Linked DNA regions of Homo sapiens: region 2 is linked to region 1. A link means that fine-mapping ties the variant in region 1 to the expression of a gene that starts in the linked region. Tissue or cell type: lymphoblastoid cells. Region 1 holds a variant in brackets; the other region holds the start of a gene. All regions are shown on one strand. Distances are from middle to middle.

Region 1 (8,102 bases):
ATGAGGCATGTTCCTCTGTGCACAGCTCTTACACCACCCATGCAGTTCTGCGAGGCCAAGCACAGAACCACGATACCATGGGACCCAGAGCAGTACTCTGGACCTGTGGGTAAGGTGGGCAGCAGCCCAGCCTCCGGGGAAAGAGAGGAGCGGAAGTTTAGAACCAATAACCCCCAGCTTTCCCTGCTTGAGTAGCTCCACAGCCCAGACTCCCACACTCCAGGCTGTGCATCACCTGAGAACAGAAACTGTGCCTTATCCTCCATCTCAGCACCAAACACAGGCTCAGCAAAGGGCAGGGGCACAAAAAATGTTTGCTGGAAAGAATGACTGGACAAGAGAGGATGCAAAGGTCAGTCAGCGTGCTCCTTCCCCCTTGAGGGCAGCAGACCAGAGCTCAGGGCTCTGGCTCAGCTCATCATGATCAAACATGACCTTGGCACCTTTCTGAACTTGAACTTCCTGTCCATGGGATGGAAATGATCCTTCGCAAACAGCCTTCCCAGGACAGCTTCGAGGATCAGGGCAGGACTACCTTGTAGCAGCCTATGGACTTAGCTCTTTCCTTCTCTCTTATTCCACTTGGTAATGTTAAGTGATTGAGAACAAACTCAATTCACCTCAATTTGCCCTCACATATTCAAGTGGTTGCAGGGTTTTTCTGTTTGATGGTTTTTATTTTTGTTTTCAGCCTATTTCTTTTTCATTTTTTTTTCTTGTGAGATGGAGTCTTGCTCTGTTGCCCAGGCTAGAGTGCAGTGGCATGATCTCGGCTCACTGCAAACTCCACCTCCTGGGTTCAAGCGATTCTCCTGCCTCAGCCTCCCGAGTAGCTGGAATTACAGGTGCCCACCACCACGCCTGGCTAGTTTTTGTATTTTTTAGTAGAGACGGGGTTTCACCATCTTGGCCAGGCTGGTGTCAAACTTCTGACCTCATGATCCACCCACCTCAGCCTCCCAAAGTGCTAGGATTACAGGCGTGAGCCACCACGCCCAGGCGTTTTCGGCCTATTTCTTAACCAGGCTACTATGTGATGGTTTTTATTATTTATCTATTTATTTTTGAGATGGAGTCTCACTCTCACCCAGGATGGAGTGCAGTGGCATGATCTCGGCTCACTGCAACCTCTGCCTCCCAGTTTCAAGCGATTGTCCTGCCTCCGCCTCCCAAGTAGCTGGGACTACAGACATGTGCCACCGCACCTGGCTAATTTTTGTATTTTTAGTAGAGATGGGGTTTCACCATGTTGGCCAGGCTGGTCTTGAACTCTGACCTCAGGTGATCCGTCCACCTCGGCCTCCCTAAGTGCTGGGATTACAGGGGTGAGCCACCACACCTAGCCATGGTGAAGCCTTTCTAACTCTGGTTTCCATAGCTGTAAAATTAGATGATTGATGGGCATGGTGGCTCACACCTATAATCCCAGCATTTTGGTAGGTTGAGAAGGACAGATTGCTTGAGCTCAGGAGTTCAAGACCAGCTTGGGCAATATGGAGAAACCCCAGCTCCACAAAATATACAAAAACTAGCCAGGTGTGGTGGTGCACGCCTGTAGACCCAGCTACTTGGGAGGCTGAGGTTACAGTGGGCTGAGATCGGGTCACTGCACTCCAGCCTGGGCAGCAGGGTGAGATTCTGTCTGAAAAAAAAAGATAAGTAAAACTTTCCTTTTTTTTTTTTCTTTGAGACTGAGTCTTGCTCTGTTGCCCAGGCTGGAGTGCAGTGGCATGGTCTCAGCTCACTGCAACCTCCGCCTCCCAGGTTCAAGTGATTCTCCTGCCTCAGCCTCCCTAGTATCTGGGATTACAGGTACATGCTACCACACCTGGCTAATTTTTGTATTTTTAGTATAGACAGGGTTTCACCATGTTGGCCAGGCTGGTCTCGAACTCCTGACCTCCAGCAATCCGCCCGCCTTGGCCTCCCAAAGGGCTGGTATTACAGGCGTGAGCCACCACGCCTGGCCAACACCTTTCTTATGTATGTCAGCAGGCTTTTTATGGCAATCATGGGCGATAGCAAACGTATGTATTGTAAACTCTGAAGCAGTGTATGAATACAACTACTGTCAGAACTTTGAAGCCCTAAATGGCTTGATAAAAAGGTTAGAAGTCCACCTATAATCCCAGCACTTTGGGAGGCTGAGGCAGGTGGATCTGAGGTCAGGAGTTCAAGACTAGCCCAGCCAAGATGGCGAAACCCTGTCTCTACTGAAAATACAAAAATCAGCCAGGCATGGTGGCACACACCTATAATCCTAGCTACTCAAGCTCACTGCAACCTCTGCCTCCCAGTTTCAAGCGATTCTCCTACCTCCGCCTCCCAAGTAGCTGGGACTACAGACATGTGCCACCACACCCAGCTGAGGTGGAGGTTGCAGTGAGCTGAGATGATGCCCTGCACTCCAGCCTGGGGAACACAGTGAGATTGTCTCAAAAAAAAAAAAAAAAAAAAAAAGCTACAGTTAGATCCAGTGCCAAAAACTACTAGCTCCAGGGTTTTGTGTGTGTTCTCCTAGATTCCTGGGCCCCACCCTGTCCTTCTTTCACCTTCCTCCCAGGTAGAACATGGGGTTAAAAATCTTTCAATGACTACTGATCCATTGAAAAAACAGTCAAGGAGTACGTCAATTGGAATCGACTCAATTTCACTGCTTCTTAAGGATGAAGGAAATATTATCTTTTTAACATAACTGCAGGCCAAGCGTGGTGGTTCACGCTTGTAATCCCAGCACTTTGGGAGGCTGACGCAGGCAGATCACTTGAGTCCAGGAGTTCGAGACCAGCCTGACCAACATGGCGAACCCCATCTCTACTAAAAATATAAAAAGTAGCCAGGTGTGGTGGTGGGCGCCTGTAATCCCAGCTACTTGGGAAGCTGAGGCAGGGAGAATCGCTTGAACCTGGGAGGTGGAGGTTGCAGTGAGCCAAGATTGCACCACTGTACTCCAGCCTGGGCGACAGAGCGAGACTCCATCTCAAAAAAAAAAAAAAAAAAGGAAAAAAAAAAGATAAGCATAGAAAACATTTAGGGAGTACCTACTATGTGTTAGGCACGTTATTGTGTCATCATTAAAGCTCATAACCTTGTGAGGGAAGGAAACAGAGTCACAAACACACACTCCTTGGCCGGGCGTGGTGGCTCACGCCTGTAATCCCAGCACTTTGGGGGGCCAAGGCGGGCGGATCATGAGGTCAGGAGATGGAGACCATCCTGGCTAACATGGTGAAACCCCATCTCTACTAAAAAACACAAAAAATTAGCTGGGCTTGGTGGCAGGCACCTGTAGTCCCAGCTACTTGGGAGGCTGAGGCAGGAGAATGATGTGAACCTGGAAGGCGGAGCT[T/G]GCAGTGAGCAGAGATCGCGCCACCGCACTCCAGCCTGGGCGACAGAGCAAGACTCTGTCTCAAAAAAAAAAAACAGAAACACACACTCCGAGGGAAGGCACAGGCTTTTCTGGGATGAGACAGCCATTCCTGTCTCTTAGGCTCCTCCTACTAAGCTGCTGCATATTCTCTACTACAGGCAGAAATGGAGATACACCATCTTTGTTCTTGCATAAGCTGATAGCCAGATGAATCCTGCACGTCCAACAACCCTAATCACTGGGTTAAAGGCCAGAGACTACACAATGCTAGGCTGAGGCTAGATGGGTCACTGAGGGCTTCTCTTTGTCCTTTAATCAGGGAGTAAGACCCAGTGTCCCAGGGAAAGATGGGGTCATATTTAGATCAAGACAGAAGACAAGAAAGTATGGCATGCCAAGAAGAGGTCTGCAGCCAGCAGCCCTGAGCTGTAACCATGGCTCTAGCACTGCAGGGAGAGGCTTCCAAGCCTGTGGGGTGAGGTGTCTGCTGCCTGCCTGCCCTGTGGGGTGCTGGACTGACTGGAAGACAGAGACACCAGTGGAGCATGCACTGGTCACTGTCTCCATAACAAAAAAGGGCTTGCTTTAGGGCAAACTACTCACCTCTGTGCTTCACCTTCTCCATCTGTGAATGGGAGAGCTGGGTGGACTCAATCCTCAATGCCAATGTCTGACCCTGGTTTCCTGGGGTCATTTGAAGGGCCTCTCAAAAGAACAGATTTAAGGGGATGGCTGGAAGGTCATGAAGATAATGGCCAAGGGCACCTGACCTCCCTCCAAACTCTTGCAGAGGCTCCCGCTCCCTCACCCCAACCAGAGGCCAGGGAACTAGGGGATGATGGTCAAGGAGGTGGGGGACGGGGTATGGAATGGACCAGGAGCACATGCCCCTCTCCTGGCTGCCCTGGAAAGTTGCCAGGGCAGTGATCCCATTCAGCCTTGCTCCCCTTGCTCCTGGAGCCCCTCTTCTGCCTGAGAGAAGGTGTTGGGGTGGGGCCTGCACTCCTGCAGGGCCACCTGGGTGGAGGCTGGCACAGAGGATGTGAGGCAGGGCAGGCCTGCAGCTTGAGTGGGGCGGCTCTGCTCCCTCCTCCTGATACCTTTGCAGGAGGCTTTATCCTCCCATTTTCCACCTTTCCCTTTCTCAGTCCCCTTCCGGCACTTGCCCTACTTCCCTCCTCTGACGGACTTAGCCTGGTTTCTCAGGGATATTTGCCCTCTGACAAAGAACTCAAGATCCAAAGGCTTTATTCCAGACCTCAGGAAATGGAGCTCTGCGGGGCACGTGTGGGCAGGGCAGGGTGGGGCGGAACGGTGGGCAGGAGGGAGGCCTGGATCACCCCCCAACCCCCGCTCCCACCCCTGTCCCAGAACTCTGGACCCCATGCGGCCTGCACTCTTACCTTGTACTGATCCCCAGGGACGCATCATGTCAGGCCACACAGCCTGGAACCTAGGAACCTGCCTGGGAAAGCTCCAAGATAAGTCACATCCCTTAAAAACGCTGGCCAGGGCTGGGCATGGTGGCTCATGCCTGTAATCCCAACACTTTGGGAGGCCGAGGCAAGAGGATCACTTGAGCCCAGGAGTTCGAGACCAGCCTGGCCAACATGATGAAACCCCCGGGTCTCTACAAAAAATACAAAAATTAACCAGGCATGGTGGTGTGTGCCTGTGGTCCCAGCTACTACTCTGGAGGCTAAGGTGGGAGGTTTAACTGAGCCCAGAAGGCAGAGGTTGCAGTGAACCATGATCACACCACCGTACTCCAGCGTGGGTAACAGAGAGACCCTGTCTCCAAAAAAAAAAAAAAGAAAAAGAAAAATGCTGGCTAGGCAGCAGCACCCAACGATGGTTCAGTCAGGGTGACAAGCACCATCTCTGTTGCGAGAAGAGCTGGCTCTGGCCAGGGCAGGGGGGCATCAGGGGCTTCCCAGTGGCTCACAAGCATCTGTTTAGTACTGGCCTCACTTGTGTGCTTGCAGGGAGGGGATTACATGGAAAGACAGCCTCTCCTGCCAACGAGGGGATTTCATCGCTGCTGGGAAGGGACCTCACACCAAAAGAACCCTGGTGGAGGCTGGGCATGGTGGCTCACGCCTGTAATCCCAGCACTTTGGGAGGCCAAGGCAGGCGGATCGTGAGGCCAGGAGTTCAAGACCAGCCTAGCCAACATGGTGAAACCCCATCTCTACTAAAAATACAAAAATTAGCCCAGTGTGCTGGTGCATGCCTGTAATCCCAGCTACTTGGAAGGCTGAGGCAGGAGCATGGCTTGAACCCAGGAGGCAGAGGTTGCAGTGAGCCGAAATCAGGCCACTGCACTCCAGCCTGGGCGACAGTGAGACTCATCTGTGGGTGGGAGAAGTGGGGGAAAGAATGCTGGTGGTTCCCAGATGCCTAACTCCCTTTCAGAAGGGAAGGAACACTTTCAACTGTGATCAGGACTCAACACCTCTGGGGATAACGAGCTGCTTTCTGGAAAGAGAGCAGGACAGGGAATCAGGACACAGGTGCTTCTGACCCCAGCCAGGAAGCCCTGATCTACTGAAGGCTCCTTAACCCAAGTTCAGTCTAAACATGACTGCTCACTAAGGCCTTTCTGCAGAGGCCCTACACTGAGAAAAGCCCCCAGTCCAGCTGAGAGTGCCCTCTGGAATGGCTGCAGGGCTCCTCCTTCCCCGGCTCCTCCTCCACTCAGACCCAGGCCTGGGCCCTGCTCGCTAAAGCGTGAAGGAGGCCCCCCAGGGAAGCCGCAGGCGCAGGGGCTTTAAATTATAGAGCAGCTTTCTTAGCCCCTCTCAGAAAGGCCCAGGCACCTTCGCTAAATAATTCACGACCTCAGGAAGACCCACTGGTTCTTGACACAGATGAAGTAGGTCAGCCCTCGGCTTGGCCCTGGGTGGGGGCCATAGGACACAGAGCAGCTTTCCCACCAGCACAGGCAGGGGCTGAAGGCTGGGCGGCCTTGCCAGCTGGTCCGATACTGCAGCGAGGCAAGGGGCACAGCGCGGGAGACGAGTAACCCCGGACTCCTCTGGGCACGAACACAGCCACCCTCTGAGGTCCAGGTAACTCGCCCACAGACACCCAGGGTTACCTGCAGGGCCTGGTCCTGGCCAGGCTCCTCCTCCTCCTCCCTCAGAGCACCTGGGTCGCCAGCTGACGCATTCACCAGCACTGACATCTTAGACCCAAGCCGACCTGTGCAGGACTGGGATTCAGGAGACGGGGTAAGGCGGGGAGCGGTGACCTGAGGTGCAAGTGAGGAAGTGACCAGAGCCAGCCACAGCCACTTTAGTTTTGCTTAGAGCAAGGCTGGAGCAACACCTATTGGGAGGGGGGTTCCGGGGCCTCTGCTGTCCTCCCTTTCCAGGCACGGCTTTGGGTCTGAGGTGCGGTGCGGTGCAGAGCAGCTCTCCCAGGAGTGGATGAAAAAACAAACAGTTAAACCCTGAGTTCAGCACACCAGCCCTCCAGTAAGAGTCTGAAAGGATTTCAAGCAACCTCTTCACAGACAAGGAACCCGAGACCCCAAGTCACAAAAGGTAAGACTGAGGGTCATGACGGGCATCCTGACACCTGGCCCAGGCCAGCCTGGGCTCTTGGCACTGCACAGCTTCCCTGAGCCTCACACCCATTTGCTCCCGCTCCAGGAATCAGAGTTGCAGCCCATAGACTACAGGGTGGATGAGGTTAACCCCTTCTGGGCAAGATTCCAGGTCCTAGCCTTCCCTCCAGCACAGCCTCACAAGAGGCACGCCAAGGACAGACACCACCTGGCAGAGCCCAACAGCCCAAACCTCAGTCCTCTTTTACCAGAGCGAGACTCAAAAAGACCACAGGCCGTAAATGGTTAAGCCGAGTATATCACCGCCTTCCCCCAGGAAGGTCCCACCTGGGGGCCTGCTCTTGGTGTAGGGAGTCTCTCCCTACCCTGACAGCCTGGAAACTGAGGAAGTAAAGCCACAACTGCCAGGCCCTTAGGCAAGTCACTTACCCTGGACTTTGTTTCCCCAGCTTACAAACCAGGGAGGCAGGAGAGGCTAAGTGAGCTCCAAGGTCCTCCCCCACCACCTTTACAGTCACAAGCCAGCTGCCAGCGGGCCAGGCCCACTTCACTTCCTTCCCCCGACTCCACATCTCTCTGGCTCTGCCTTCCCAATGGCAGTCTGCGTCCACGGAAGGGGGAAGCAAAGGCCGAGAGCAGTCATTTTGGTTTTGTTTTATTTTGCATTTCATATATTATCCAGTTTCACATTCTCACAGGATCAGCAATGACAACAGCCGCCTCATCTCCCAAGTCTGAAATGGCCAGACGGTCACAGCTGCGGCTGACAGTAAAGCACTGATATGCTCAAAACAAAAAACATTGCACAGTGTTTCCTTCATTTCATTTTCTTAAACAAATGCCAGACACAAAGGCGTACTGCTGAAGAATGGAAACCCTTTTCTTCTTCATGCCTCAAACTAAACATTAAACTTATCTGACAGGGCGAACGAGGTCGCTTTAATAATTAATGGTACGCACATGAAAAATCCTTTATGATGCATAAATATTTTGTTACACAGGGTACAAAAATACTTCTCACGTTTTGGTTGGTTTCGAGGTTTGGAAAGAATGAGGAGCAGCGGCGGGCGGGGTGCGCTGTGGAGAGGTGAACAGAACGGGCAGAGAGGGCTTTCTTACGACTGTTGGCCCATCCGAGAAGGCAGGAGCGGAGGAGCCCCA
Region 2 (8,102 bases), 350 kb before region 1:
ATGCCATTGCACTCCAGCCTGGGTGATGGAGCAAGAATGTCTAAAAAAAAAAAAAAAAGAAAAGAAAAGAAAAAAGAGATCTTTAAGTCTTGCTAAATGGGTGTGCTTGCATTGCTCAGGCAGAAATGTAATTTAACAAATGACAGTAATAATAAATTGCATTATAATTACATCATAATTAACATATGACTTATGAGAAAAGAATGCCTTTTTCTTTTTTTGAGACAGGGTCTCACTCTGTCACGCAGGCTAGAGTGCAGTGGTGTGATCACAGTTTACTGCAGCCTCGCCTCCTGAGCTCAGGTGATCCTCTTCCAAGTAGCTGGGAACACAGGAGCTTGCCACCACACCTAGCTAATTTTTAGGTTTTTTTTGTAGAGACAGGGTCTCCTGATATTGCCCAGACTGGTCTCGAATTTCCGAGTTCAACCAATCCTCCCACCTCAGCCTCCCAAAATGCTGAGATTACCGGTGTGGGCTACGGTACCCAGCCACCTATGTTATTCTGGAGGACGTACTTATCATAACATGTATGACATACTAAATTATATTATATGAAAAAACTTAAGTCATAGTCTCTGCCTTCAAGCACTTAATGTTTTAGTTATGGAGACTGTTATGGTTAATTTTAGGTGTCAACTTGACCAGATTAAGAAATACCTAGAGGGCTTGTAATCCCAGCACTTTGGGAGGCCGAGGCGGGAGGATCACCTAAAGTCGGGAGTTTGAGACCAGCCTGACCAACATGGAGAAACCCCATCTCTACTACAAATACAAAATTAGCCGCGCATGGTGGCACATGCCTGTAATCCCAGCTACTCGGGAAGCTAAGGCAGGAAAATCGCTTGAACCCGGGAGGCGGAGGTTGTGGTGAGCCAAGATTGCACTATTGCACTCCAGCCTGGGCAACAAGAGGAAACTCCATCTCAAAAAAAGAAAAAGAAAAAAAAAAGAAAAAGAAAAAGAAATACCTAGATAACTTGTAAAGCATTGCTTCTGGGTGCCTTTGAGGGTATTTCCAAAGGAGACTGGCATGTGAGTCAGTGGACTGAGTGGGGCAGATCTGCTCTCAATGTGAGCGGGCACCATCCAATTAACCAAGGACCCAGAACAAAAAAGGTGAGAAAAAATATTTCTTCCTTCTGGAGCTGAGACACTCTTCTCAGACTTCTGCTCCCAGACATCAGAACTCCAGGCCCTCCACCTTGAGACTTGAAGATTTCACAACTTGGACTGAGCCAGCTACCAGCATTCCAGGGTCTCCTGCTTGCAGATGGCCTGTCATGGGTCTTTTCAGTCTCCATAATTTCCTGAGCCAATTCCCTAATAAATCTCCTCATAGATCTGTATCTATATCTATCTGTTATCTATCCTATTGGTTCTGTCTCTGGAGAACCCTAACACAGGGACTGAATAAATAAACAGGTAAATGACTTTGATACCTTACAATTATTATTAAATGTAGTGGAGTTTTACAAAGAAACAAAACTTGTACCCACAATTAATAAACATTCACAGAGTATTTTGACTTTTTCTTAAAAAAAAAAACCCTGGAAAATCATCTGCTTTCCAAATTAATGATATCTACGACAATCTAAATGGAATGTAAATCAATACACTTATGAGGTTTTGTTTTGTTTTTGTAAAAAGGCCTTGCTCTGTCGCCCAGGCTGGAGTGCAGTAGTGCAATCAGGGCTCACTTCAAGCTTGACCTTCCAGGCCCAAGTGATCCTCCCACCTCAGCCTTTCAAGTAGCTGAGACTACAGGCATGTGCCACCATGCCAGGCTAATTTTTTTCATTTTTGTAGAGATGAGGATTCTCCTTATGCTGCCCAGACTGGTCCGGAACTCCTGGGCTCAAGTGATCCTCTTGCCTCTGATTCCCAAAGTGCTGGCATTACAGGCATGAGCCACCACGCCCAGTGTGTGTGTGTGTGTGTGTGTGTGTGTTTGTGTGTGTGTCTCCGTGTGCGCTCGGGTGATCCTCCCGCCTCGGCCTCCCAAAGCGCTGGGATTACAGGCATGAGACACTGCGCCCGGCCAATACACTCATGATTTTAATTATAATATTTATGCCAATGAAAACACTAGCAAAAAGGTAAAACAGCTGCCAATTTAATGTGACCACTTAGTCTAAACAGGCTAGTAGAAATGAAGAACTTTTAACCTGCAAATGCAACAAAAAGCCAGAAATGAATGGGAAGACATTATGATCTCCAGAAAAGTTTGGCTAAATTTTCCCCAGCCCATTGTCTTAGCGGGGTAGGGAATTGCAGACAGCCCTTAAATACTGTCATTTTTGGTTGAGAACTCATGTGGAAAGTCCTCAAAGCCAAATTCCAACTCCTGTTTTACTGTTTTTTACCCTCGAGCTTGCTGAGTTGTCTTGGCTCTCCTGGAAAATACATGGCTCAAAAAATAAAATAGAAGTTTTAGCGGTGTGAATCTAGTAGTCGACTACAGGGGGTATTAAAAATAAACACTCCATCCCGGTTAACACGTGAAACCGCGTCGCTACTAAAAATACAAAAAAAATTAGCCGGGCGTGGTGGCGGGTGCCTGTAGTCCCAGCTACTTGGGAGGCTGAGGCAGGAGAATGGCATGAACCCGGGAGGCGGAGCTTGCAGTGAGCCGAGATCATGCCACTGCACTCAAGCCTGGGCGACAGTGCGAGACTCCGTCTCAAAATAAATAAATAAATTAATTAATTAATTAAAAAATTAAAACCACCACCAGAGCAAAAACTTACAGCGCTTACAATACCTTCCACGTGCTGTTTTATTTTACATAAAACCATGACGATTAAAAAGCTGGCCTCTCAGCTTTCCGGGTATTGGTTTGTTTTCCCCCTAAACTGTCGTTTTTATAGGCACTTGCACTGTCTTCTTAGCAGAATTGCCAATGGCCTTCCTCGAGTCCTACGTTTAGCGATTGGCAAGAATCATGCACTGACAGAGCTCGACTCCGGAGGGCACAAGGAAGTAGACAACAAAGCAGGAAGAAGCAGGAGGCGCACAGATGGGCGGGATCTGCACTGGAGGCGGTGCGACCTTGCGGGGCGGTGCAAGCTGGCGGAACCCGCGTGAGAGAGGTTGGTGTTGCGAAGGGAACTAGTCCGGTGCAGGACGTGGGGCTTTTGCAGCTCAGCTGGTTCCGGCTGGGGAAGATGGCGGTGGCTGGGGCGGTGTCCGGGGAGCCGCTGGTGCACTGGTGCACCCAGCAGTTGCGGAAGACTTTCGGCCTGGATGTCAGCGAGGAGATCATTCAGTGAGAACAGTTCGGGTCCAAGCGGGGAAGGAGCTCTGGGATGTGCACTGCCTGAGCGAACCGGGAAGCGGGGAGGACTGAAAAGTTAAGAGAGAAATGTGATAAAGGGGCTGCAGTCTGTAGTCTGTAGGCGTCGAATTTTGGCCTCCACCTTTGTAGTTTAGTTTCTGGAATAGGGTGTCCGGCTCCACAGTCTGCCGGTCGGGCTTTTTTCCTGGGAAGACGCCCAATCTGTAATAATTAGAAATGCAAGGCTGTCCCAGGAGCCAGTTTCCTTTCTAGAGAGAAGGGGCAGGTCAAACTGTATTTCCTAACTTTGAACCCCTTACTCTTTTATTTATTTATTATTATTGTTGTTATTATTGAGACGGAGTCTCTGTCGCCCAGGCTGGCGTGCGGTGGCGCGATCTTGGCTCACTGCAACCTCCGCCTTCCGGGTTCAGGTGATTCACCTGCCTGAGCCTCCCAAGTAGCTGGGATTACAGGCACGCACCACCACACCCGGCTAATTTTTAAAAATTTTTAGTAGAGTCAGTGTTTCACCATGTTGGCCAGGCTAGTCTCCAGCTCCTGATCTCAAGTGATCCGCCCGCCTCGACCTCCCAAAGTGCTGGGATTACAGGCATGAGCCACCGCACCCAGATATACTCTGAACATTTTAGTCGGCCCAATCTGAGTTGTGTCAGTAGAGCCAACAGGGTCAGCTGTGTCAATAGGACCTAGAATTTAAGTGGAAGCAGCGTGGTAGAGTACAAATAGCTTCTGACTCTGGAGTCTCAGGTTCTATATTCTGTTGTCGTTTACCTGTTTTAGAACCCAGGACAACTTAATTTTTCTCTCTGTACCCTGGTTTCTTCATTTATAAGATTAATCATTAGTAGAGCTTATCATGCTTTATGACTCCTATGAAATGGAGATGGTGTACATGACTTAATATCTACTTTCAACTGATTGAAGAACATTTGTTGCGCTGCTGTTACACGCCAGGTGCTGGGGTAACAAAGACAAGACAGTTGGGTTCCCCTTCGTTGATGAGTGCTGAGGTTGGGGAAATGAAGGGGCTTGTTGGAGCACAAAATAAAGGATTCTCATTAAGATTTGAAAAACTCGGAAGGTTTATTGGAAAGGATAACTTTCACCCGAGAACTAAGGAATAGACAGAGGTGGCGGTCCAAAGTGTTCAGGCAGGGGAGAAAACTACAAAAATGGGACTTGATCGAAGAACTGAAAGTGTTCCTTCATTTGATTCCTTGGTCACTGATGTTGAAACCTAAATTGCTGTTCTAGGGCTTTTGTAGGAAGTAAGATGAGTTTCTGAGTTTCGGAGAAAATAGACTTTTGGCAAGGAGACAGTTCAAGTAGGTTATTTTAATGGATTTTTTTGAGGCCCTAGGAGATGGCTCAAGCCCTTATTCCCAGCACTTTGGGAGGTAGAGGTGGGAGGATTGCTTGAGACTGGGAGTTGGAGACCACCCTGGGCAACATAGTGAGACCCTGTCTCTACAGAAATAAAAAAAGTAAACAACAAGATAAAGGATTTTTTTTAACACTAGAATAGACAACAAAACAAAACAGCGAAATCTTATGGTTTGGCTTTACCCTTGCTTGAACGCAGTCAGATTAAGTATTTAGTAGTTTTCAAACATTTTTTAAAGCAGTGGAATGCTATCAAATGAAATAATGAAACTTTGCAATATATAAAACAGAAAAGTGTTTTTTACGAATATAAGTTCAAAATTTTCACTTTTTTTTTTTTTTTTTTTTGAGACAGATTCTGTTGCCCAGGCTGGAGTGCAGTGGTGCGATCTCAGCTCGCTGCAACCTCCGCCTCCCACGTTCAAGCGATTCTCTTTCCTCAGCCCGAGCAGCTGGGATTACAGGCGCGCACCACCATGCCTGGCTAATTTTTGTATTCTTACTAGAGATGGGGTTTCACCATGTTGACCAGGGTGGTCTCGAACTCCTGACCTCAGATGATCCAACCGCCTCAGCCTCCCAAAGTGCTGGGATTACAGGCATGAGCCACCACGCCTGGCCCAATTTTCACATATTTATTGTAAATATGTGTAATATATTAAATATCAAATATATTAAATATTAAATATATCAAATATTATATTAAATATATTAAATATTAAATATATCAAATATTATATTAAATATATTAAATATGTGTATTATATTAAATACAGTATTAAAAAAAAAAGATTGAGGTGGCCAGGCGCAGTGGTTCATGTGTGTAATCTAAGCACTTTGGGAGGCCGAGGCAGATGGATCATTTGAGGTCAGGAATTTCAGACCAGCCTGGCCAACATGGCGAAACCCCCACTCTACTAAAAATACAAAACTTAGTCGGGTGTGGTGGAGCGTGCAGGTCATCTCAGTTACTCGGAAGGCTGAGGCAGGAGAATCCCTTGAACCGCGGGGCAGAGGTTGCAGTGAGCTGATACCGCACCACTGCACTCCATCCTGGGTGACAGAGTGAGACCTCGTCTCAAAAAAAAAAAGGAAAAAAGAAAGATTGAGGCTATTTTTGATAAATTAACAATTTGAAATAGGGTAAGAATGATAGATGTAGTCTTCTCAGTCTAGAATCCAGTTGTATTTTGTTTGGATTACACAGTATCAAGAAAATGCGTTCTCAGGCCAGGCGTGGTGGCTCACGCCTGTAATCCTAGCACTTTAGGAGGCCAAGGCAGGTGGACCACCTGAGGTCAGGAGTTCGAGACCAGCCTGGCCAACATGGTGAAACCCCGTCTCTACTAAAAATACAAAAAAAAATTAGCCAGGTATGGTGACGGGCACCTGTAATCCCAGCTACTCGGGAGGCTGAGGCAGGAGAATCGCTTGAACCCAGGAGGCAGAGGTTGCAGTGAGCCAATATCTCACCACTGCACTCCAGCCTGGGCGACAGAGCGAGACTCCGTCTCAAAAAAAAAAAAAAATTATATTCCGCCTGGGAAGGAGGTCAGTGCCCGTCGGCATGTATTACGCTAAGATACTATTTGAAGCATTTGTTAGGTATTCACTAGTATTCCACAACAGGCTATTATGCCATGATGAAAGCATTTGCTGTGCCTTGCCTGGCATTTAATTGAGAATTACCCAGGTGTATGTACTACAGTAATGTACTAACTTGAACAATTTTATATGAGTGGACTGAATTTTTGAAATAGCACAGAGCTATTAACTTTTTTTTTTTTCTTTTTTGAGACGGAGTCTCACTCTGTCGCCCAGGCTGGAGTGCAGTGGCAGGATCTCGGCTCACTGCAACCTCCACCTCCCAGGTTCAAGCAATTCTCCTGCCTCAGCCTCCCCAGTAGCTTGGACTACAGGCGCGTGACACCATGCCCAGCTAATTTTTGTATTTTTAGTGGAGATGGGATTCCACCAGGTTGGCCAGGATGGTCTCGGTCTCCTGACCTCGTGGTCTGCCCGCCTCAGCCTCCCAAAGTGCTGGGATTACAGGTGTGAGCCACTGCACCCGGCCTTAACTTTCTAATTAGTGATACATTTATAAGACATAAATAGCTATCCACAGAGTTAACAAAATAAACTTTGGTCCACAATCTGGATGAGTTCATATTATTTTGATAAGATTTGGTATATAACATATTTGGATGAATGTTGTTCTTTATTATACCTTGTTAAGTAGTTAAAATGACATTTATTCAAATGGTTCTGAAACTCTCTTCCCTGGTTGTTTGAAAAATACTCCAGGGTTGGCCAGGTGCAGTGGCTCAACCTGTAATCCCAGCACTTTGGGAGGCTGAGGTGGGTTGATCACTTGAGGTCAGGAGTTCAAGACCAGCCTGCCCAACATGGCAAAACCTTGTCTCTACTAAAAATTCAAAAAATTAGCCGGGCGCAGTGGTGCACGCCTGCAATCCCAGCTACTCAGGAGGCTGAGGCAGGAGAATTTCTTGAACCTAGGAGCCAGAGGTTGCAGTGAGCCAAGATAGCACCACTGCACTCCAGCCTGGGTGACAGAGTGAGACTCTGTCTCAAAAAAAAAAAAAAAAAAAAAAAAGCCAGGTGCAGCGGCTCAGCCTGTAATTCCAGCACTTTGGAAGGCTGAGGCGGGCAAATCACTTGAGGTCAGGACTTCGAGACCAGCCTGGCCAACATAGTGAAACCCCGTCTCTACTAAAAAAAAGCAAAAACAAAACAAAACAAAACAAAAATTAGCCGGGTGTGGTTGTGCACGCCTGTAATCCCAGCTACTCAGGAGGCTGAGGTAGGAGAATCGCTTGAACCTGGGAGATGGAGTTTGCAGTGAGCTGAGATCGCACCACTGCACTCCAGCCTGGGAGACTAAATGAGACTCTGTCTGAAAAAACAAAAAAACCCTCCAGGGTTAAATGATCCCTTGGGATTCCTTACAGTTTTGCAAGTCTTTGATAGCAGTTAATCTTTTGGTGGGGACTGGTAAGTTTGGGGATCAAGATGATTAAAATGTGTAAGTCCTGAAAAACCATTGTCTTTTCTAATCCATAGTAATTAGAAGATGCCTGTTTTTGGGGGGTGTGTGTATGTGTGTGTGTATTTTTAGTAGAGACGGTTTCACCATGTTGGCCAAGCTGGTCTCTAACTCCTGACCTCAGGTGATCCACCCGCCTCAGCCTCCCAAAGTGCTGGGAGCCATCATGCCCCACCGTTTTTGCTTGTTTGAGACAGAGTCTCATTCTGTTGCTCAGGCTGGAATGTAGTGGTGCAATCATGGCTCTGCAGCCTTCACCTCTGAGACTCAAAGGATCCTTCCACCTCAGCCTCCCAAGTAGCTAGGACTACAGGAACATGCCTCCATGCCTGGCTAATTTTAATTTTTCTTCTA

The links. PIP is the estimated chance that this variant, and not a neighbour inherited with it, causes the effect.
Region 2: it holds the start of TRIP4, and the variant in region 1 is fine-mapped to the expression of TRIP4 in lymphoblastoid cells (GTEx, PIP above 0.99).

What each region holds. Positions count from the first base shown.
Region 1 is chr15:64,732,311-64,740,412 of GRCh38, forward strand. RBPMS2 (RNA binding protein, mRNA processing factor 2) reads right to left here. Exons shown (of 8, transcript NM_194272.3): 8 at 7,581-8,102. Among named protein-coding and RNA genes, the nearest start is that of MIR1272, 26 kb to the right of the region's middle. RefSeq lists enhancers at 1-278, 279-927, 3,848-4,827. The variant T/G (reference allele first, on the strand shown) is at 3,350.
Region 2 is chr15:64,384,697-64,392,798 of GRCh38, forward strand. It overlaps TRIP4 (thyroid hormone receptor interactor 4), which reads left to right and starts at 3,140. Exons shown (of 13, transcript NM_016213.5): 1 at 3,140-3,268. The coding sequence starts at 3,168. It also overlaps a transcript of PCLAF not described here. RefSeq lists enhancers at 2,855-3,355, 2,937-3,426, 3,356-3,856.